Linked DNA regions of Homo sapiens. The protein of the gene in region 3 interacts with the protein of the main gene of each other region in a pairwise test. Each region holds a gene or a part of one and is shown on either strand. Other genes may lie near its edges.

Region 1 (7,027 bases), on a different chromosome or scaffold from region 3:
TCTAAAGGGCCCAGAAGGGGGTGGTGGGGGAAATAAAGACTCCAAAGTGTCCAAATGATACAATGTTTATTTTTAAAACCAGAAACTTCCTGCCGGGCGTGGTGGCTCACGCCTGTAATCCCAGCACTTTGGGAGGCAGAGGAGGGTGGATCACGAGGTCAGGAGATCGAGACCATCCTGGCTAACACGGTGAAAACCTGTCTCTATCAAAAATACAAAAAATTAGCCAGGCATGGTGGCGGGCACCTGTAGTCCCAGCTACTCAGGAGGCTGAGGCAGGAGAATGGCGTGAACCCGGGAGGCGGAGCTTGCAGTGAGCCGAGATCGCGCCACTGCACTCCAGCCTGGGCGACAGAGCGAGACTCCATCTAAAAAAAAAACAAAACAAAAAAAACAAAAAAACCCCATAAACTTCCTGTAATTGTTAGGGTTCTAGGTTGTTGGTTTTTGTTTTTTTGCATCTTATACTTTTCCATTATTTATAGTTTCCTATGGATGTTACTATTTCTAAGTTGGAGAAAAAATAAAATGAAAACATAAGTTTCTCAGGTAATTATTAGAAATATGTTTTAAAAGGACATCAAATAGGTTTTATAAGGACTTGTATGAATACATTTTCTTTTGTGTATATTTGAAATACTTTGTGGTATTTTAAAAAGGTTCTTTTGAGGGCTGGGCGCAGTGGCTCATGCCCGTAATCCCAGCACTTTGGGAGGCTGAGGCAGGCAGATCACTTGAGGTCAGGAGTTTGAGGCCGGCCTGGCCAACACGGTGAAACCCCATTTCTACTAAAAATACAAAAGTTAGCCAGGTGTGGTAGCACACCTGAAATCCCAGCTACTTGGGAGGCTGAGGCAGAAGAATCGTTTGAACCTGGGAAGTGGAGGTTGCAGTGAGCCGAGATCGTGCCACTGCACTCCAGCCTGGGCAACAGAGCAAGGCTCTGTCGCAAAAAAAAAAAAAAAAAAAAAAAAAAAAAGGCTGGGGGGAGGGGGCCAGCGGTTCTTTTCAGATCGAATGTTTGAAAGAACAATATAAAGAACTGAACTCTAGAACAGGAAGTGAATACTACAAGGCAAGAGGTTAGACTGTGTTCAGCTGGCAATAAGACCGCAGGCATTTCCTGCGCACAGCTGTTCACTGCCAGGGTACAGTCAGGGTCCCAAGAATTTCCTCACTAATGAAAACAGCTGCTCTCAACTCAGGGCTTCTAGAACACAGCAGGTTCCCAAATGGACTTAATACAGTTAACTTGAGATACCTAATTCCAGCTCCCATAGTCTCAAGCTTCTGGGAAATGAGGGGTCTGATACTATGAACATGATTTATAACCACCATACTCACCTGCTCTAAGGTGGCAGCAAAGCCCTGTCTGTCTGCTACGTAAGGCAGCCCGTGAACCAAGCCTACTTTTTCTGTCATTTGATTCACCATGTCAGTAAGCGTATCTGGAATTACTACAATTTAAAAAAAAGGCAGAGAGGGGGAGAAAAGAAAATTTGTTTTTAGTAGAATGCCCATTAATATAAAATATATTTTGTGAATTGTTATTACATTCTTAATAAAATACATTATTTTAAACATATGGATCTAATAAAATGAATCTCAACCACCTTTCTGAGGAGAATACAAAATTTCAAAAGGGCCTAATTCTCGAAAGCTAATTTATACATTTTTTAGCCCAGTATATACCTACTATGTACCAGAGGCAGAATATACTTTGAAAAAGTTACCCCCTGTTGGAACTTCTAATTTGGAATAAGGACAATCTGTCCTAGTGGAAAAGGCTCAGGAGCAGAGGCTAAAGGACCTCAGTTCTCGTGCTGGCTTCTCTACTCTCCAACCATAGGAAATGAGACTATTTTCTCTGTGAGTATCAGATTTCCACACAGGAATGGAACGTGATTATATTGAACAGAGATCTGTACACTGAAAAACATATGATAGTAAATAATTTAAGATAGCAAATATGAAGAATGAACATCATCTCTGACCAGCTGATAGATCTGTAATGGTCTTGATTAACTCATAGGAGTGCAACATTTATGTTCATTTTCTAATTTGCATTTTAAGCTAATAAAAAATTTAAATTATTGCCCAATCTTTAGCAAACATCTCATATCATTTTTACATGACCTTATTTTTCATTTCCTCCAAGTCTTTAAGAACTAAATCTACCGTATAAAGAAAAGTTGTATTTGGACCTTAAATACTCATTCTAGGTCAGTGCTTCTCAACTGGGGGCAATTCTGCCCCACAGGGGACATCCGGCAACATCTGAAGATATTTTTGCTTTTACTACTGAGAAGGGGGTACTACTGGCATCTCATGGTAGAGACCAGGCATGCTGCTAAACATCCTACAAGACAGCTCCCACAACAAAGCCTAAAATGTGAACAGTATTGGGGTTGAGAAGCTTAAGGCAATTAGAATATAAGAAAATATTATAGAACACTGAAACTATTATGAGTGTTCGAAAATGCAAGTTATAATTTCAGTATATGAAAGGCTTCTTGCTAAAATCATTTAAGTAAAAAGTCATGTGTATAGTCCGATAAGTGTATGTGTTTTAGTAAAATATGCACCTATTAATTTCTGTCCCTTTGTGAGACGGTGTATTACGCAAGCCGAAACACATTAAAGATAAGTGTCAGGCAAACAAGGGAAAAGTTACACCCATGGGAAAGCTTGCAGATTATATAATGAACCACAACCATTTTTAATTTAATGGTTGAAATTTTCTCTTCAAAATGAAAACATTTTAATACATGTAACATTCTAGTTTAGGATTAAAAAAATCAAAATCTTAGTAAGCATAACTGGACATATTACCATGAAATGATGATGAAATAAATTACTCTTTTAGGCAAATAAAAAGAACTCATGAATGTATCTGAGATTGCTTTTAGCATTTTATCTTCAAATTAATAGTTTTATAAAATAAATAAGAAAAAAACCTCACCTCTTATTCCACTATCACAAATCCATATAAGATCATACTTTGCAACTTCATATCCTGGCATTAAATTATTAATTTTAGGATTAATGCCAACTTTTTTGCCACCTAAAAATGTAAAGGTACAGTAGTAAAAGATTTATGCAACATTAAAAATATTTTATAGTATAAAGATACATGATAGAAATGAGAATACTTGCATATTTAATAATTAAACATACTTTCATATTATTTAACATTCTCTATTATTCATAATAATATATTTAGGAAAAAACTGTCCATTCTCAAAAGGAAAACTGTATCATTTATCTTTGAAAATTCACTGTTTCACTTTTTCTAATTCTTAAGTCCTTGCCTTAGTAGTTAAGTATGAGTCAATATTTAATGGCAATTGTACAACATGGCAACTATAGGTAACAACAATGTATGGTATACTTGAAAATGACTAAGAGTAGATTTCTCACCACAAATAAAGTATAAGTACATGAGAAAGTATATAACAACATGTTGTTTACTTGAAAACTGCTAAGAGAGATTTCCCACCATGAATAAATATGTGTGGTAATGCATATGTTAATTAACTTAATTTAGCTATTCCACAATGTGTACATATATATATATTTCAAAACATCGTGCTGTACACCAAAAATATATACAAATTTTATTTGTCAATTTAAAAAATAATCCTAAGGGAAAAAGCTACAGGCGTTATTTTGAAGCTATAATTAAAACAGTATAAATTCATAAATACAGTAAGATTATATTTAATAAAGGTTTATTAAATGTAAACACACATGGCCAGGCACCATGGGCTCACGCCTGTAATCCCAGCACTTTGGGAGGTCGAGGGGGGTGGATCACCTGAGGTCAGGACTTCGAGACCAGTATGACATGGCGAAACCCCATCTCTATTAAAAATACAAAAAAATTAGCTGAGCGTGGTGGTGCCTGACTGTAATCCCAGCTACTGGGGAGGCTATAATCCCAGCACTTTGGGAGGCCGAGGCAGGTGGATCACCTGAGGTCAGCAGTTCGAGACCAGCCTGACGTGGTGAAACCCTGTCTCTGCTAAAAATACAAAAAAATTAGCTGGGCGTGGTGATGCACGCCTGTGATCCCAGCTGCTCAGGAGGCTGAAGCAGGAGAATTGCTTGAACCCAGGTGGAAGGGGTTGCACTGAGCTGAAATTGTGCCATTGCACTCCAGCCCGGGTGATAAGAGCAAAAAATTCGTATCAAAGAAAAAAAAAACCAAAAAAACCCCATAAATATATGACAGTAAATAATTTAAGATAGCACATGTGAAGAATGAGCATCTCTGACCATGAGCTGATAGATTTGTAATGGTCCTGATTAATTCGTAGGCATGCTACACTTATATTAATTTTCAAATTTGCATTTTAAGCTAATAAAAAATTTAAATCATTGCCCGATCTTCAAATAGCAAAGATCTGATATCATTTTATACGACTTACTGGTTTTTTAGAGAGACCACATCAGCTCTATGTTAAAAAAAAAAAAACACTAATGGCAAACACACCTCTACAAGTCTTTCAAATAAGCCTGTAGGCTTTTGGAAAAATACCCTTCTTGTAATGTAATAAAAGTGAATTCTATCATTCACTCCAATTATAGTCAGTAAGATACAGAAAAGGCCACACATTTAAAATATTGAAGAAACAAAAAATAACAGACCCTCATGTCTGATTAATGGGAAAAATATTATTTTGTGTGTGATTTTGTTCATCTCAGATATGAAAAAAAAAAACCTTTGTTTTTATAACTTTTCTCAAAAGGACGTAAACACCTCTCAGTACTCCAACAAACATGTTTAAAACAAACATGGCTAACACCTTAATCTTCAGTTCAATGCAGAGATTACTGATACTTAATACTATCAATGGAAAATGGTTACTACAGAATTTGTTACTTACCTATAAACAATCTAGCATCAACATTTGGATATTTTCCAAGAAGCTTCTTACATACATCAATGGCTGGATCATCATGATCTTGTACACAAAGGAGCACTTCATACTAGTCAAAAAGCATTGTATGTAAATTAAATTCTTTAAAAAAATAAGCACTTACTAGCATGTATTGATTGAACAAAAAGCACAGGAAAAAACAAGCAACTGTATTATGCAAAGTTTTAAAAGAGAGCATTCACAATGGATGCAAACACTTATGATAACAAGTGTTGCTTTAATGGAGTGAAGCTTCTAATTAGGAGCCTATCTGCAAGCAGAATAAATAAGGAAGAGACTGGCAGTGCCCACAACTGCAGTCTTGCCATTCCCAGATAGGAATCTCCTAGTTAATCTCCATTAACTGGATCTCAAGCTTGTCCATGGCCATCACTACTGAAGATTTACTAACTGCTCACAGGGTGCCTAGCAGAGTAAAAAGTGACATCAAAAGGAAGCAAAATAAACACAACCTCTCTCTAGAAGCTTTGTCTCTATACTTAATATTATTTCATGAAGGTGCAACAAATTTCATATAAAATCCCATTATAATAAATTTAAAGGGCCCTTCCAAATTCATCACATGAAAAGGACAAAGTAAGATTACCCTTTTTTGTTTCATAACTTTTTGAAACAAAACAGAATTTGATTTGAATGGACATTTACGATCTTGAAATGCATGCTTAGCCTTGTAACTATGAAAATACCTACAACTTTATTTTGCCCAGTGCTATGTTTAGATTTTTAACAGTAAATTAAGAAAGGCATTTCTTAACACTTGCCCAGCTGTGACAAAATTACCCTGGGGCTGGGCACGGTGGCTCATGCCTGTAATCCCAGCACTTTGGGAGGTCAAGGTGGGAAGACTGCTAGAGCCTAGGTGCTCGAGAGGAGCCTGGGCAAAAAGGCGAGGCCCTGTCTCTACAAAAAATTTTTAAAATTAGCTGGGCATGGTGAGGCATGCCTGTGGTCCCAGCTACTTGGGAGGCTGAGGTGGGAGGATTGCTTGAGCCCAGGAGGTTGAGGCTGCAGTGAGCCGAAGACTGCGCCACTACATTTCAGCCTGGGAAACAGAGTGAGACCCTGCCTCAAAAAAAAAAAAAAAAAAAAAAAAAATCACCCTGGGGCATTTATTTTAAAAAGAGAATTGGACCCTATTTTAGACTTTTGAGTCAGAATCTCTGGGGTGATCTGACATGCAGCCAGATTTATAAAATCCTGAACTGAACCCCTAAATTTCCATTAACAACCCAACTTTTTTTTTTTTTTTGAGACAGAGTCTCACTGTCACCCAGGTTGGAGTGCAGTGGCATGATCTCAGCTCACTGCAACCTCCGCCTCCCAGGTTCAATCGATTCGCCTGCCTCAGCCTCCCAAACAGGAGTAGCTGGGACTACAGATGCCCGCCACCATGTCTGGCTAATTTTTGTATTTTTAGTAGAGACGGAGTTTCATTGGCCGGGCTGGTCTCAAACTCGTGACCTTGGGATCTGCTTGCCTCTGCCTCCCAAAGTGCTGGGATTACAGGCGTGAGCCACCATGCTCAGTCAACAACTAAATTTTTTAAGTATTTGTCCTTAACATACAAAAATACTACTCTATTATTTGTAGGATATGTATTCTAAGTAGTGATTTTTTTCCCCAGAAGTGGTAATAAATTCATGTTGACTCAATGAAGAAATTTCCTACCAAATCTTTTCTAAAACTGGTTGAACAGCCAGGCACGGTGGCTCATGCCTGTAATCCCAGCACCTCAGGAAGCCAAGGCTGGTGGATCACTTCAGGTCAAGTTTTTGAGACCAGCCTGGGAAACATGGTGAAACCCTGTTTCTCCTAAAAATACGAAAAATTAGCCAAGTGTAGTGGCACGCGCCTATAATCCCAGCTACTTGGGAGGCTGAGGCAGGAGAATCACTTGAACCCAGGAGGCGGAGACTGAAGTGAGCCCAGATCACGCCACTGCACTCCAGCCTGGGCGACAGAGCGAGACTCCATCTCAAAAAAAAAACAAAACGACGACAACATAAAACTGGTCGAACATTTTTAAGCACAGAAGGGAGGTTAATTATGTCCATGAAAACATAACAAAGCTAACTAACTCAAGA
Region 2 (7,027 bases), on a different chromosome or scaffold from region 3:
TTTTGTCGAATAGAAAAGGGGGAAATGTGGGGAAAAGAAAGAGAGATCAGATTGTTACTGTGTGTAGAAAGAAGTAGACATAGGAGACTCCATTTTGTTCTGTACTAAAAAATTCTTCTGCCTTGGGATGCTGTTAATCTATAACCTTACCCCCAACCCTGTGCTCTCTGAAACATATGCTGTGTCCACTAAGGGTTAAATGGATTAAGGGCGGTGCAAGATGTGCTTTGTTAAACAGATGCTTGAAGGCAGCATGCTCGTTCAGAGTCATCACCACTCCCTAATCTGAAGTACCCAGGGACACAAACACTGCAGAAGGCGGCAGGGCCCTCTGCCTAGGAAAACCAGAGACCTTTGTTCACATGTTTATCTGCTGACCTTCCCTCCACTATTGTCCTGTGACCCTGCCAAATCCCCCTCTCCGAGAAACACCCAAGAATGATCAATAAATACTAAAAAAATTTAAAAAAAAAAAGAAAAAAATGTATTTAATATTGATGAATGTTGGAACACTTTACATAGATATACTTGGATTTTCTCAGTAGATATGAAAATAAATCCCCTTGTTCTCCTTGGTTAAGTTTTTATTTATGTTGAAATTAATACATCTCTTCTCTAGAATTCTGTTTTGTATATGGTCTGCAAACTGGAATGCTACAGAAAAACTCCACAAAGCTGATGATGAATATGCAAACAAGAGGGGGAAGCCCTCTCATCCTCCTCCCACTGGGGGAAACGAAAGCACAGAGGTCATTCAGCAAATGAATCTCCAAGTGGAAAAATATAATTACAAGGAGTTTGGTAAAACTTTCTACTTGGAAATAAAAATTACAGAGAACTAGACTGGGAAGAAATCTTTCTTGCTGTGTCTTCCTCTTGCTATCTTTTCTAGAAGAAAAGCCTGGAAATGAGAAGCCTTCGGAATAAATGAAGAATTCAAAAGATTTTGATGTCAAAGTACTATGCTGACATTCAGAGAGATGGCAGGTAGGGGCTTTTGCAAGGACACATTTTGACATCCAGTAAGAGTCAAGGTGAGGTATAAAAATAACAGTTTGATATTCTATCTATTTAGTTGTTCTTGTTGTGATGAAAAATTTCAAAAACTTGTAGAAAAGTATAGATGTCAGAATAATGAACCAACATGTAATCATCATTCAGCTTAGACAATTATCAAACAGAGTTTTTAACAAGGTTAATCTTGTTTCATCAAGATACATTTGGAAAAAACATTAAAGTCTGCGAGTTTATTCTTCGTAGTCCCTAGAGTTCTACATTACAGGAAGTAAGATGTGTTACTTTAACTGTGGTTGACAACTGCTGAAGACACTTGTCCTCTGCCTGTTATTGTTTCTCAAACACTGCCACTACATTTCTTGTCTAAGTTTTATAAAGTTAAAAGATGAAATTTAAGTTTTTTTCAGTTACCTATTCTAATATATTCAAATATTTCTGAAGAACATATACTTTAGCCCTAAAATGCCTTTCTGTTCTGAGAGTGTACATTTTTTTGTACCATAATATATTAAAATAGATTAAACATACTGGTTTTAGCTAAGATAATTTAGCTTTAGTTAACATTCACTAGTGATTTACTATAGATCTTTTTTTTTATTACACTTTAAGTTCTTGCATACATGTGCAAAACATGCAGGTCATAGGTATACACGTGCCACGGTGGTTTTCTGCACCCATCAACCCGACATCTACATTAGGTATTTCTCCTAATGCTATCCCTCCCCTAGCCTCCCACCCCAAGACAGGCCCTGTTGTGTGATGTTCCCCTCCCTGTGTCCATGTATTCTCATTGTTCAACTCCCACTTATGAGTGAGAACATGCAGTGTTTGGTTTTCTGTTCTTGTGTTAGTTTGCTGAGAATGATGGTTTCCAGCTTCATCCATGTCCCTGCAAAGGACATGAACTCATCCTTTTTTACGGCTGCATGATTTACTATAGATCTTAATTGCTACTTGAGAATAATCTTTACAAAATGCTTACCAATATTAGCATAATGTTTCTTTTCTTGTGTGTTTGTAGATAGTTCATACATGTCTCCATAAGCACGAGCAAATCGCCACATAAACTCTATTTCATCTCTAAACTGAAAAGAAAAGATGGAGTTGCCTGTTAAATTAACTTGGTAACTTGTCTATTCTATTCTTGTTTTCTACTGCAACTTTTTAAAAACTTAGGCAGGTAAACTGGTATTTATAGATTATTGAATCTATGTATATGCATATTTCGTGTGAAACATTTTTAATCCAAATACTCATGGCTAAGAAATATGACCTAATGTAGTGTTACATTTGGATCTTAAAACCAATTAATATTATCCAGACACTAGCTCCATCTATGCAGAGAAGAGATTTGATAGGCACCAAAATCTAGAAATTCTTCCTGAGCTGTGGCATCCTTTTCTTCTTTTCCTTTCCAAGTTATCTATTATCAATATAATGAGCATCTCAGTTAATATCTGTAAATTGAAAATGCATATACTCAAAAGAGCAGTCACTTTTTTTACTCAAATTACCTAAATATAATCCTGGAGAGCTATCAAGTTTTAGACAATGTGTTTAGAGTTGCTAAATCCTCAGACAAATAGAGATTTATTTCTCCATGGGACACTGCAAACTTTTAATTTTTAATTTTATTTTATTTTATTTTATTTTTTTTAGTGGTGGTGGTAAGAGCTCTGGACAGGCTTTTCTTATTCAGACCCAACACTAAACACTGCAAAATCAACAAATGACCATTGGTAGAAATAGCTTTGAATACCCATATCTGTCTCAAAATATTTGTTAAATATATAAATTAGTAAAAAAAAAAAATCAAATAAAAGTAAATCTGCGTAATTATAGCTCTGGTTCTCATTTTTATGACCTTAGAGTCTAATAAACTTTTACATTTACTTTTTTAAAATTTTATGCATCTTAAATAAAAAATAAATTTTAAAAAATTTTAGTCATTTTATAGAGAAATTTTACATCAATCATCAAAATGTGGGAACCATGACACAATTATTATAGTTATAACTGAAACAGATGGCAGATTAAATTAAAAAATGGAACTATACGAAGTGCTATTGTTATGTCTCTTACCTTTTCTTTGTGGTCACGAAGTAGTTCAAAACTCTCCGACTTGCCAGACTCACTCATACGTAAATGATCTACCTTCTGAAGAAGGACATCTAAATTTAATTCCTCTACACGTGTGTTAAATGCCTTAGGGACTGGAAAACTCTGTTCTTCTGTGTCAGTATTAGCTGTAATATACCTAAAATCGCAGAAATAATCATCAACTCCTTTGAAAGTTAAGTATAATAGCCAGAGCATTCCTTTTAAAATGCAAGTCAAATCATGCCCCTCTTATGCTTGAAACTCTGCAGTGGCACGTGCTTTCACTCAGAAAAAGCTCCAGTCCTAACAGAAGTCTACAAGTCCCTGCGCAATTTGCCCACGATCTCGTTACCTCTTTGATCTCATTTCCTACTACTCTTCTTATTCAAATACACACAGGTCACCTAGCTGCTCCTTCAATATTCTAATCACGTGCCTACCTCGGAACCTCCACTTGCTGTTCCCTTTAATGAAACGCCGTTTCCTTAGACAGCCACATAACTCACGCCCTCACCTCCTTCAAGTCTCTGCTCCAATTTCATTTTCTCAATGTGGCCCATCCAGACCACTCTAATACCTCAATCCCCACATTCCCTTCATCTCTAACCTCCCTCATAATGCTTTTTTCTTTTCCCATAGCATGTATTACCTTCTAACATACTGTATAATTTACTAATCTACTACATGTGCTGTTTGTCAGTATCCTCCCCAGGAGAATGCAAGCTCCCTGATGGTAGGTTCATTAACTGATGTATCAAGTGCCTAGAACAGCACTATTCACTGAATTTGCTGAATGGATGATACAGTTGTAGGAACTCAGCAGGCACTCAAAACTGTGTGTGTAAACTCACAAAAACACATATTTATAGTTCAAGATGATCTAAGTTTAAACTTTAACGTGGTTTTTAAAAATTAATACTATTGCCTACATTTCATTTTTGCCAGCAAACAATACAAACAACTTATTTTTATTAATTCAGACTCTGCCTGTTCTAAAAAGGTTTTAAGGAGGTATACAAGGATATATAACATATAAGAGAATAAATTAGAAATAGTGAAAAAAGACAAAGGCCAAATGTGAATGAAGTCAATATAAAAAACACACAAATTTTAGATAGCTATACCTTTGCTACAAAGGACACAAATGTTCTTCATTTTCTAGCATGCAATGCAATCAGCTTCACAACTTGCAGCTCCCGTTAGATAGAAACAAACAAAAAAACTAACAAAGCAAGTTCTTAAATTTCTTTCATATGCCTTACAAAGAAGATACTGTATGAACTGATCTCCCACTTCTTCAATAACATTCTTTACTAACGGAAACTCTACTCTTCCAATTGCTCAAACCAAAAAACTTGGAATCATCCTTGATGCTTTTTTCTTTCTCTTAAGCAATACCCAGTCTGTTAGCAAATCCTGCTGGTTCTATCGTCAAAATACATCCAGAATCTAGCCACTTCTCCCCACCTCTCCCCACTACCACCTTGGTCTAAGCCTCCATCATCTCATCTGGATTACTGCAATGACCCCTTATCACACCTCTTTGCTTTAGTCCTTGACCCTTATATTCTATTCTCAACAGAGTAGCAAGAATAACTCAGATCACGTCACTCCTTTGCTCAAAACCCTCCATCAGATGTCCAAGTCAGAGTGAAAACCTAAGTCCTTTCAGGGGTCTACAAGGCCTAACATAATCTGGCCAATACCTCTGGTCTTATCTTCTATCACTTTCCTGCTTGCTCACAGCATTCCAGAAACTCTAACTTCCTTGATATTCCTTGAACATATCAGTCATGTTCCTGCTTTAAACCCTTTGTATTTTTTCTTTCTTCTGCCTGGTATGTTCTTCTCCAGATATTCATATAGTTTATTTCTTTGCATATTTCATATCTTTGTTCAAATGTAATCTTCTTATTATTGCAGATGTTATGATTATTTACATAAAAATAAAAATTCTACAAATTTTGATTAATAGGAGAGTATAGCAAATTGGCTGAATATAATATTAACATATGAAAGTCAGTTTAATTTCTACATATCAGCAAAAAACTACAAACATAATTAAATAAAATATTCAATTTGCAGTGACCTCAGAGAATATCAAATGGCTAGGAATAAATCTAACAAAAGATATGTGAAAATTCAATGGAGAAAATTATAAAAGCATATTAAAAGATGTTTCTAAAATGACCTAAATTCATGGAGAAATATATCACGTTCATGGTTTAGAAGACCCAATATCATAAATATGTGAATTCTTTCCAGGTTAATCTATAGATTCAATGCAATTCAAACTTTATAAGCCTAATAGGAATTTTTGTAGAATTAAATAAGATGATTCTAAAAGTTATATGAAAAAGCAAAGAGCCCAGGACAGCCAAAGCACTCTTAAAGGGAGCAAGGAGAGAAGACTTACCCCACCAGATTTTAGGACCTACTATGAAGCTATAATAATTAAAGACAGTGTGGTATTGGTACAGCAATAGATGAGTGAATGATAGAACAGAGCCTAGAAACAGACCCACATGCATATGAAAATGTGGTACATGGGAGAGTTGGCATGTAAGATCAGTAGGAAATTCAGGCATTCAGATGGGAAAAATTGTTATCTCTATGGAAAAAGATGAAATTGAAACTCTACCTTATATTTTTAAAAAACATAACTGGATAGTTTAAGAAAATGTTATATATTTTAAAAATCTAGTACAAAATACAGACGAATATATTTTAGTCCTTGGGGTAAGACATATGAAATAGACATTATGGATCATCTATTCAAAATTAAGCGTCCAGAAATAATTTCTTAAAATTATGATCAGTTTATTTTGATAAGAGTGCCAAGACAGTTTAGCGGAGGAAACAATACTCTTCAACAAATAGTGCTAGAACAAATGGATAAGCAAATGCAAAAAAGGAACTCTCACTTCCTATCATATATAAAAATTAACTCAAAATGTATCAAACCTAAGTGTAAGAGCTAGAACTATAAAATGTTTGACAACATTTTATATGTATATGTTTTCTTTCTCATAAGAAAACATAGGAGCAAATATTTGTGATCTTGGATTAAGCAATGGTTTCTTAGACATGACATCATAAGCACAAGTGACAAAAGAAAAAAATGAATAAATTAGACTTTATCAAAATGAAAAACTTAGGTGCTTCAAAAGATACCATTAAAAAAGTGAAAAAACCCACAGAATAGAAGAAAATATGTTATGAATCATATATCTGATAAGAGACTTGTATACAAAATATATATAAAACTCTTAACAATTCGACAATAAAAAGACAAATAATTCAATTTAAAAATGGGCAACTCTGCAAATAAAAACCACCAAATTATGTAATTTAAAAGATGGAGCTTTATGGTAACAAATAATATACAGCTTTTATAAAGGTATAAAGCTATTATCTTTATGTTATTCTTTATAAGAACAAAAACTCAAATGTTGCTATAGCCATTAAATGAATTACATCAGAATTATGTATCTACTGCAACTTGCTCTCTATCTCTTGCTCTAATTCTGTCTCTCCCATGCACACATAGAATAGTTTTATTGTGAAATCTGCCATATATCCAAATAATTAGGCTTATTCAAATTCTTCTAAAGAATTACTAAAGATGGAATGCCCCTCAGGTTTATTTTATAAAACTAATATAACTGACACAAAAACCAAACATGAATATTACAAAAAATAAAAATTATAGGCCAATCTTACACATAAACATAAATGCAAAAATCCTCAATAAAATATCAATCAAGCTATTGCAACAAATATAAAATTATGTATTACAACCAAATTGAGATTATACTAGAAATTACAAGCACAGTTTGACATTAGACAATTTCTCTGGCGCAACAGATGAGACCTATCTGATCAATTCAGTCATTACCAAAAAAATTTT
Region 3 (7,027 bases):
TAAAGTTATGCATATCATTCACGCATCTGGACACCTCTTCCAGTGCTGCATTTGTGTGTGAAAACTGCCTACTGAGCAATGCAGACATTGGGTAACGTCCTGCCTCTTTATTTCTCAGTGGAAAAAGCTTGTCATTAGTCTCTGAAATGTCTTCGGATGATTCTTTATCAGTGTGCACAGACCAGCTACCAAAATCATCTGTGCTCTCCTTATATGAGTCTTTAAATTCTTTGTCAAATGCTGCTTTGTCAATAATTACTTCAAATGGTGATTCAGGGGAATCCTTTTCAATAACATCATCTCCTGAAACTTTGGATGGAGACAAAGAATATGTATAAATGCCTTCTACCTTAGAGTACTCAGTAGGTGGTTTCTGGGCTGTCAGCAAAGTGAATCTGTCATCAGCATCCAATGCAGTTTTAGCCTCCCTACTTGATACCCCATTTGGGTTCTTGGTCTCTTTATCTATTTGCTCTTCCACTTGACCAATTTTCTTTGAGAGAAAAGCAGGATGCTCTGGGAAACTGGCTGGAATAGAAGGACGGTCACAATGAACTCCTGCTGCAAGAGAAACTGAAGAGTCTGATACGTTGTTGCTGGTCCCCTGAGGCTTTTCCATCTTTTTCATATCTAGAAGATCCAAGTGGTCTTTTCCTTCTTTGGCTAAAATAGGCTGGCTCCCTAACACATGGCTTTTTTCTCCATGTAGTATTGTAAGGCCAGTGTTATGTATTTCAGAAGATGAAAGAAAGGAAGAAGTCATAATTTCTGAAGATGGCTCATCAGAGCAAAGAGAGCTCAATCCCTCTATGATCAGAATTTCAAAGAAAAAAATTGTTTACCAGGTACAATTACACATTAGCTAGCCAAGCCAAGCAGCATGCTTTTTATTTTTTAAATTACATAAATATATATATACACACACAGGATGTATATATACACACATAAATATGTAACAAAACGATCAAGTTATCCTACAGGACATGCATAAAACTGCCAACAGTGAAACAGAAAAGCCATATCATGCCACAAACTGCAAATGATAAAAAATTTTCATGACAAATACTTTTGGTCTACTTTTCCATTGTACAGAGAAAGCATAAAGAAGGGCGGTAAGATTGAGAAATCTTGGGAGGTTTTTTATTCTTTGATAGAGCTAATCAACAAAAGCAAAATAATTTATACAAAACAAATAACCTGATACTATAAAGGGTTGATAGACTTCAATCTGTAAGCTGAACAATTCAGAGCACAGACTGCCTCTATAAATCTGTTAGTCTCACAATCTGAAAAGGAAAAAAACTAGTGGCCAGACTTTTTTGATTTTTAGGAGATGCAATGGGCCCTTCCTGAATCTGAAAAATGAGACTAGAATTATTCTATTCTATCCACAGGGAGAATCTGTCCCATGTACAAATAAATAGCTGTGATGTTCTAAACTAAAGGGTACTGAAAAAGGTGGACCCCCTCCAAAATCTTTTTTTTTTTTTTTTGATACGGAGTCTTTTTCTTGTTGCCCAGGCTGAAGTGCAATGGCGCAATCTCAGCTCACTGCAACCTCCACCTCCCAGGTTCAAGCCATTCTCCTGCCTCAGCCTCTCAAGTAGCTGGGATTACAGGCAGGCACCATCAAGCCCAGCTAATTTTTGTATTTTTAGAAGAGATGGGGTTTCACCATGTTGGCCAGGCTGGTCTCTTAACTCCTGACCTCAAGTGATCCACCCGCCTTGGCCTCCCAAAGTGCTGGGATTACAGGTGTGAGCCGCTACGCCTGGCCCCTCCAAAATCTCTTGTACTAACTTGTCATTTAAATCAATATTGTACTGTGCAAATTGATTTCTTTGGTTAAGACAGAGTTAACTTGGCTGGGTGCAGTGGCTCACCTGAGGTCAGGAGTTCGAGACCAGCCTGACCAAAATGGTGAAACCTCATCTCTACTAAAGATACAAAAAAATTAGCCGGGCGTGGTGGCAGGCACCTGTAATTCCAGCTACTCGGGAGGCTGAGGCAGGAGAATCCTTTGAACCCAGGAGGCAGACATTGATGGCAGTGAGCTGAGGTCACGCCATCGCACCCCAGCCTGGGCAACAAGAGTGAAACTGTCTCAAAAAAAAAAAAAAAAAAAAAAAAAAAGACAGAGTTAACTCCAGAATTACTTTTAAAATAGAAAATATCCTTCTCAAAGTAATACGTTAAGTCTTATCAGTTAATACCATAGTAGCCATCAATCTACCACACTGTTTTCTAACTTCCCACTCTAACAAATTTTTACTGGGGAAAAGGATCAAAACAAATATCCCAAGGGCTGGTGCTTTCTTACTTCATTTATTTGTTTGTTTGTATTTGAGAGAGGGTCTCCCTCTGTCCTCCAGGCTGGAGTGCCAGTGGTACAATTGTGGCTCACTGCAGCCTTGACCTCCTGGCCTCAAGCTATCCTCCCACCTCAGCCTCCCAAGTAGCTGGGACCACAGGCACATGCCACCACACCTGGCTAATTTTTAAACTTTCTTTTCTTTTTTTTTTTTTTTTGTTTTTTTTTTGAGACGGAGTCTTGCTCTGTCGCCCAGGCTGGAGTGTAGTGGCGCGATCTCTGCTCACTGCAAGCTCCGCCTCCCGGGTTCGCGCCATTCTCCTGCCTCAGTCTCCCAAGCAGTTGGGACTACAGGCACCCGCCGCCACGCCTGGCTAATTTTATTTTTGTATTTTTAGTAGAGACGGGGTTTCACCGTGTTAGCCAGAATGGTCTCGATCTCCTGACCCCGTGATCCGCCTGCCTCGGCCTCCCAAAGAGCTGGGAATACACGCATGAGCCACCGCGCCTGGCCTGATTTTTAAACTTTCTACAGACCTGGTGCCTCACTACATTGCCAGGTTGGTCTCAAACTACTGGGCTCAAGCAACCTGCCCACCTCGGCCTCCTGAAGTGCTGGGATTATAGGCATGAGCCACCACGCCCACCCTGGGCGCTGTCTTTCTTGCATACTGTTGTATCTTTGGAGCTGGGACAAAGTGGGTCTTAAATAAATAGCCCCAAATAAGTGAATCAAAGATTCAGCTTGGTCAGCTGAGACCTAAGTAGGCTCAGGACAGCAATGCCTTGAGCATGAATGAGTAACTGGGAAAATGTGACAGAGAAGTTCTTTTGGGATTACCTTTATTCAGCTTATGTTCCCTTTTTCATGTAAACATCCAAATACCAGATAAAAGCAAAATTATGACTTCATTCAAAATTATTTTATTAAAGACAAAAATATTTTACAATAAATAAAATTCCAGTATTATGAAAATGTTTTGAAATGCCATATAAAGTTCCCCTACTTCAACACATCACTGAAACTTGATGTAATAAGAGCTGAGCTTTAGAAATAGTATAACTGTAATCTGGTTATTAGAATAAAAAGTCTTTGTACATTCAAGGAAAACTGTAAAAGCTTGGTGGCAAAGCTATATTACCAAAACAAAACACTTGAAGTAAACTGTAATTCATATGTAGTTCTAATTTAGTAAACATGGTTTGCATCTACCATTATACAGTATGGATATTCAGCATGACTAGATTAGGGCATAACAGAAATGAAGCCCAGTATTGTAGGTTAAAAGGTTCAAAAATCTGAAGTGTGAAGTACTACAGATTACATTTAAATCAGAAATATTCCACAATCTGAGCCATGCATTGTTACTGAACTTACTAGTCAGTGTTTCTACCACAAAACATTCAGTGAACTAAGGTTATGGTAAAACTGTTTGGGAACCTCTCTCTTCAAACAACTCTGAGGTGAGTCAAACTGACTCCACCCCACAGGGGAGGTTCAGCTTATATGTTTTTTTGTGTGTTTTTTGTGTGTTTTTTTTAGACAGAGTCTAGTTCTGTTGCCCAGGCTGGAGTGCAGTGGTGCAATCTCGGCTCACTGCAACCTCCGCCCCCCAGATTGAAGCGATTTTCCTGACTCAGCCTCCGAAGTAGCTGGGATTACAGGCGTGCACCACCGCACCTGGCTAATTTTTTGTATTTTTAGTAGAGAGCTGGTTTCACCACGTTGCGCAGGCTGGTCTCGAACTCCTGAGCTCAAGCAATCTGCTCGCCTCAGCCTCACAAAGTACTAGGATTACAGGCATGAGCCACTGCACCCAGCCAGCTTATATGTTTTATGGAGATGGAGATTTCAGATGATTCAGATCTGTCATCTTACAGATGAAAGTCTACAAAATGAATTAGTAATAATTCAACAGGTATTTATTGAGTGCCTACCACGTGTCAGACACTGTTTTAGAAACTGGGCTTAAAGCAGTGAATAAAACAGAAAAAATTTCTTGCCTTTATGGAGCTTACAACACAGAGGGGAAGGCAGACAATAAGCAAAATCAATAAGCAAAATGATGACAATAATACAGTGGTGACAGTGCCTGATTAAACAAAAAAGAAAGCAACCAAATTGAATGCTAACCAAAGAATATTCATGTCACTGGGAAGAGCATGGTAAAACTGTCTATGCTTTAGCAGGACACAAACTGGTCAGTTTATCAAGCTTTGCTTTTCTCTTAACTTCTTTGAACCTTTAATACTCCAAAAGTTTCAAGTTAGGTGTAGAATAATCTCAGGTAAAACTAAAGTTAGAAGTCCTATTCTCAGAATACTAACACATCCTCTGCTGAGCACCATGATAGCCTGACAGACTTCAAACATTAAGGATTCTCTAGGCTGGGTGTGGTGGCTCATGCCTGTATCTTAGAACTTTGGGAGGCACAGGAGGGAAAATTGCTTGAGTCCAAGAGGTCAAGATCAGCCTGGGCAACATGCTGAGATCCTGCCCCTACAAAAAATAGAAAAATTAGCCGTGCATGGTGGCACGTGCCTGTAGTCCCAGTCACTTGGGAGGCTGGAGTGGGAGGATTGCTTGAGTCTGGGAGGTCAAGGCTGCAGTGAGCCATGGTCATGCCACTGCACTCCAGCTTGGGTGACAGAGTGAGAAAGAGAAAAGAGAAGAGAAGAGAAGAGAAAAGAGAAAAATGAAAAAAAGGAAAAAAGAAAAAAGATTAATATGACATGGCTACGAGATATATTAAAAAAAAACTCTAATAATGTTCCCTAATAAAAATATTATAACTTACTATTTAGGGTATATCTTGTTTTTTCTGGGGACAAGCTTAGAGGGCAAACAGAGCTCAGTGCTGCATTCATTTCTCAGTGATTGTGAGATGCAGGCGCTAATCATTACTATCAATCAAGCTTTCCCACATGTAGAAAAATAAGGTAGCATCATCATCTGTGCTTTAACTTTAATTATTTTGTTTAGAATTTCAGCAAATGAAAATACCATTTTTGGCTAGCTGAAACCCTAACAAACTTGGACACAGCTGACCTGTACCAAGACAATGGGAAAAATTGGGCTGGAAGTAAAAAGTTTATAAAGGCATGAAAACATTAAATAGAATGAAGACCAAAAACTAATAAGCCTTTTAGAACAGCTCCGATAAGCAAAGACTCTTCCAATTGGTCAGTATGGCACTTGTAGTCACTGCTGTTGCCCAAGTCAGTACCTGGCAAAAGGACAGAAAAGTCCAGTGAATCTGAAGGCAGTTAGCTCTTAAAATACTATACACTGTAAAGCTGTCTGGTGGAATAAATCTGGATTATTTTATGTCTCAGAAAATGTCTACTATCTTTCTTTTCTCAAAAGATTCATCCCTTCACATGCACTCTAAGAGCCTTTCAACACTACTCAAAACAAATCGCCATCAAAACTCTCATTATGAACATTTTCTAAATTAGTTCTTTGCTATAATGGAATTTAGTGTGGATATTCATTTTCAAGAGTTCTAATCACTTAAAAACATGGTGCTACTCTAATTATTAACAAATAAAGTCATAGATCTAGTAGATTTACTAAAAAGGGAATCAGCTGAGTGTGGTGGCTCATGCCTGTAATCCTAGCACTTTGAGAAGCCAAGGCAGGGAGACAGCTTGAGCCCAGGAGTTCGAGACCAGCCTGGGCAACACAGTGCGACCCCATCTCTACAAAAAAATTAAACAATTAGCCAGTCATGGTGGCATACACCTGTGGTCCTGACTACTTGGGAGGCTGAAGTGGGAGGACTGCTTGAGCCCAGGAGGTCGAGGCTGCAGTGAGCCATGCACTCCACCCTGGGTGACAAAGCAAGACCTTGTTTCAAAAAATGGGGGGTGGGTGAGAATCGATATATGGTAAGAGGTAAAAAATGTCATATCCCCACAATGATCATGAACATGTTCTCAAACTTATCAAGTACTCAGCTCCATGATTACTCATCTTCTTAAACTCTAAATACTCCACTGAGATATATTATCTGAAACAAAGACTAAGAAATTAAGTTGGTAGTCATATTCTAAATTCTAAATTTTTAGACCCAAATAAAAAATTCTTTTATATTTTTGAGAGATGGAATTTCACTCTTTTTGCCCAGGCTGGAGTGCAATGGTGTGACCTTGGCTCACCGCAACCTCTGCCTCCTGGGTTCAAGCGATTCTCCTGCCTCAGCCTCCGGAGTAGCTGGGATTACAGGCATGCGCCACCAGGCCTAGCTAATTTTGTATTTTTAGTAGAGACGGAGTTTCTCCACGTTGGTTAGGCTGGTCTGGAACTCCCAACCTCAGGTGATTCGCCTGCCTCGGCCTCTCCAAGTGCTGGGATTACAAGTGTGAGCCATTGCGCCCGGCCAAAAAATTCTTATTAAAAAATTCGAAGTCGGCCAGGCACGGTGGCTCACGCCTGTAATCCCAGCACTTTGGGGGCCGAGCTGGTCCTGATCACGAGGTCAGGAGTTCAAGACCAGCCGGATCAACATGGAGAACCCCATCTCTACTAAAAATACAAAAAAATTAGCCGAGTGTGGTGGCGCATGCCTATAATCCCAGCTACTCGGGAGACTGAGGCAGGAGAATCGCTTGAACCCAGGAGGTGGAAATTGCGGTGAGCCAAGATCACACCACTGCACTCTAGCCCAGGCAACAATGTGAGACTCCATCTCAAAAAAAAAAAAAAAAAAAATC

What was found. The genes of interacting proteins can lie anywhere in the genome.
Region 1: the proteins of RTN3 (region 3) and UGCG interact in a two-hybrid assay, tested with the Homo sapiens proteins (one study listed by BioGRID).
Region 2: the proteins of RTN3 (region 3) and RMDN2 interact in binary tests that used the Homo sapiens proteins (3 or more experiments, as listed by UniProt).

The regions. Positions count from the first base shown.
Region 1 is NC_000009.12:111,920,814-111,927,840, reverse strand, and holds part of UGCG (ceramide glucosyltransferase), read right to left. Parts: intron 4,993-7,027; coding exon 4,890-4,992; intron 3,065-4,889; coding exon 2,963-3,064; intron 1,458-2,962; coding exon 1,345-1,457; intron 369-1,344; coding exon of another isoform or gene 207-368; exon of another isoform or gene 50-206; intron 1-49. UniProt on the Homo sapiens protein: Participates in the initial step of the glucosylceramide-based glycosphingolipid/GSL synthetic pathway at the cytosolic surface of the Golgi.
Region 2 is NC_000002.12:37,970,287-37,977,313, reverse strand, and holds part of RMDN2 (regulator of microtubule dynamics protein 2), read right to left. Parts: intron 3,275-7,027; coding exon 3,100-3,274; intron 2,103-3,099; coding exon 2,000-2,102; intron 1-1,999.
Region 3 is NC_000011.10:63,712,482-63,719,508, reverse strand, and holds part of RTN3 (reticulon-3), read right to left. Parts: intron 808-7,027; coding exon 1-807. UniProt on the Homo sapiens protein: May be involved in membrane trafficking in the early secretory pathway. Inhibits BACE1 activity and amyloid precursor protein processing. May induce caspase-8 cascade and apoptosis.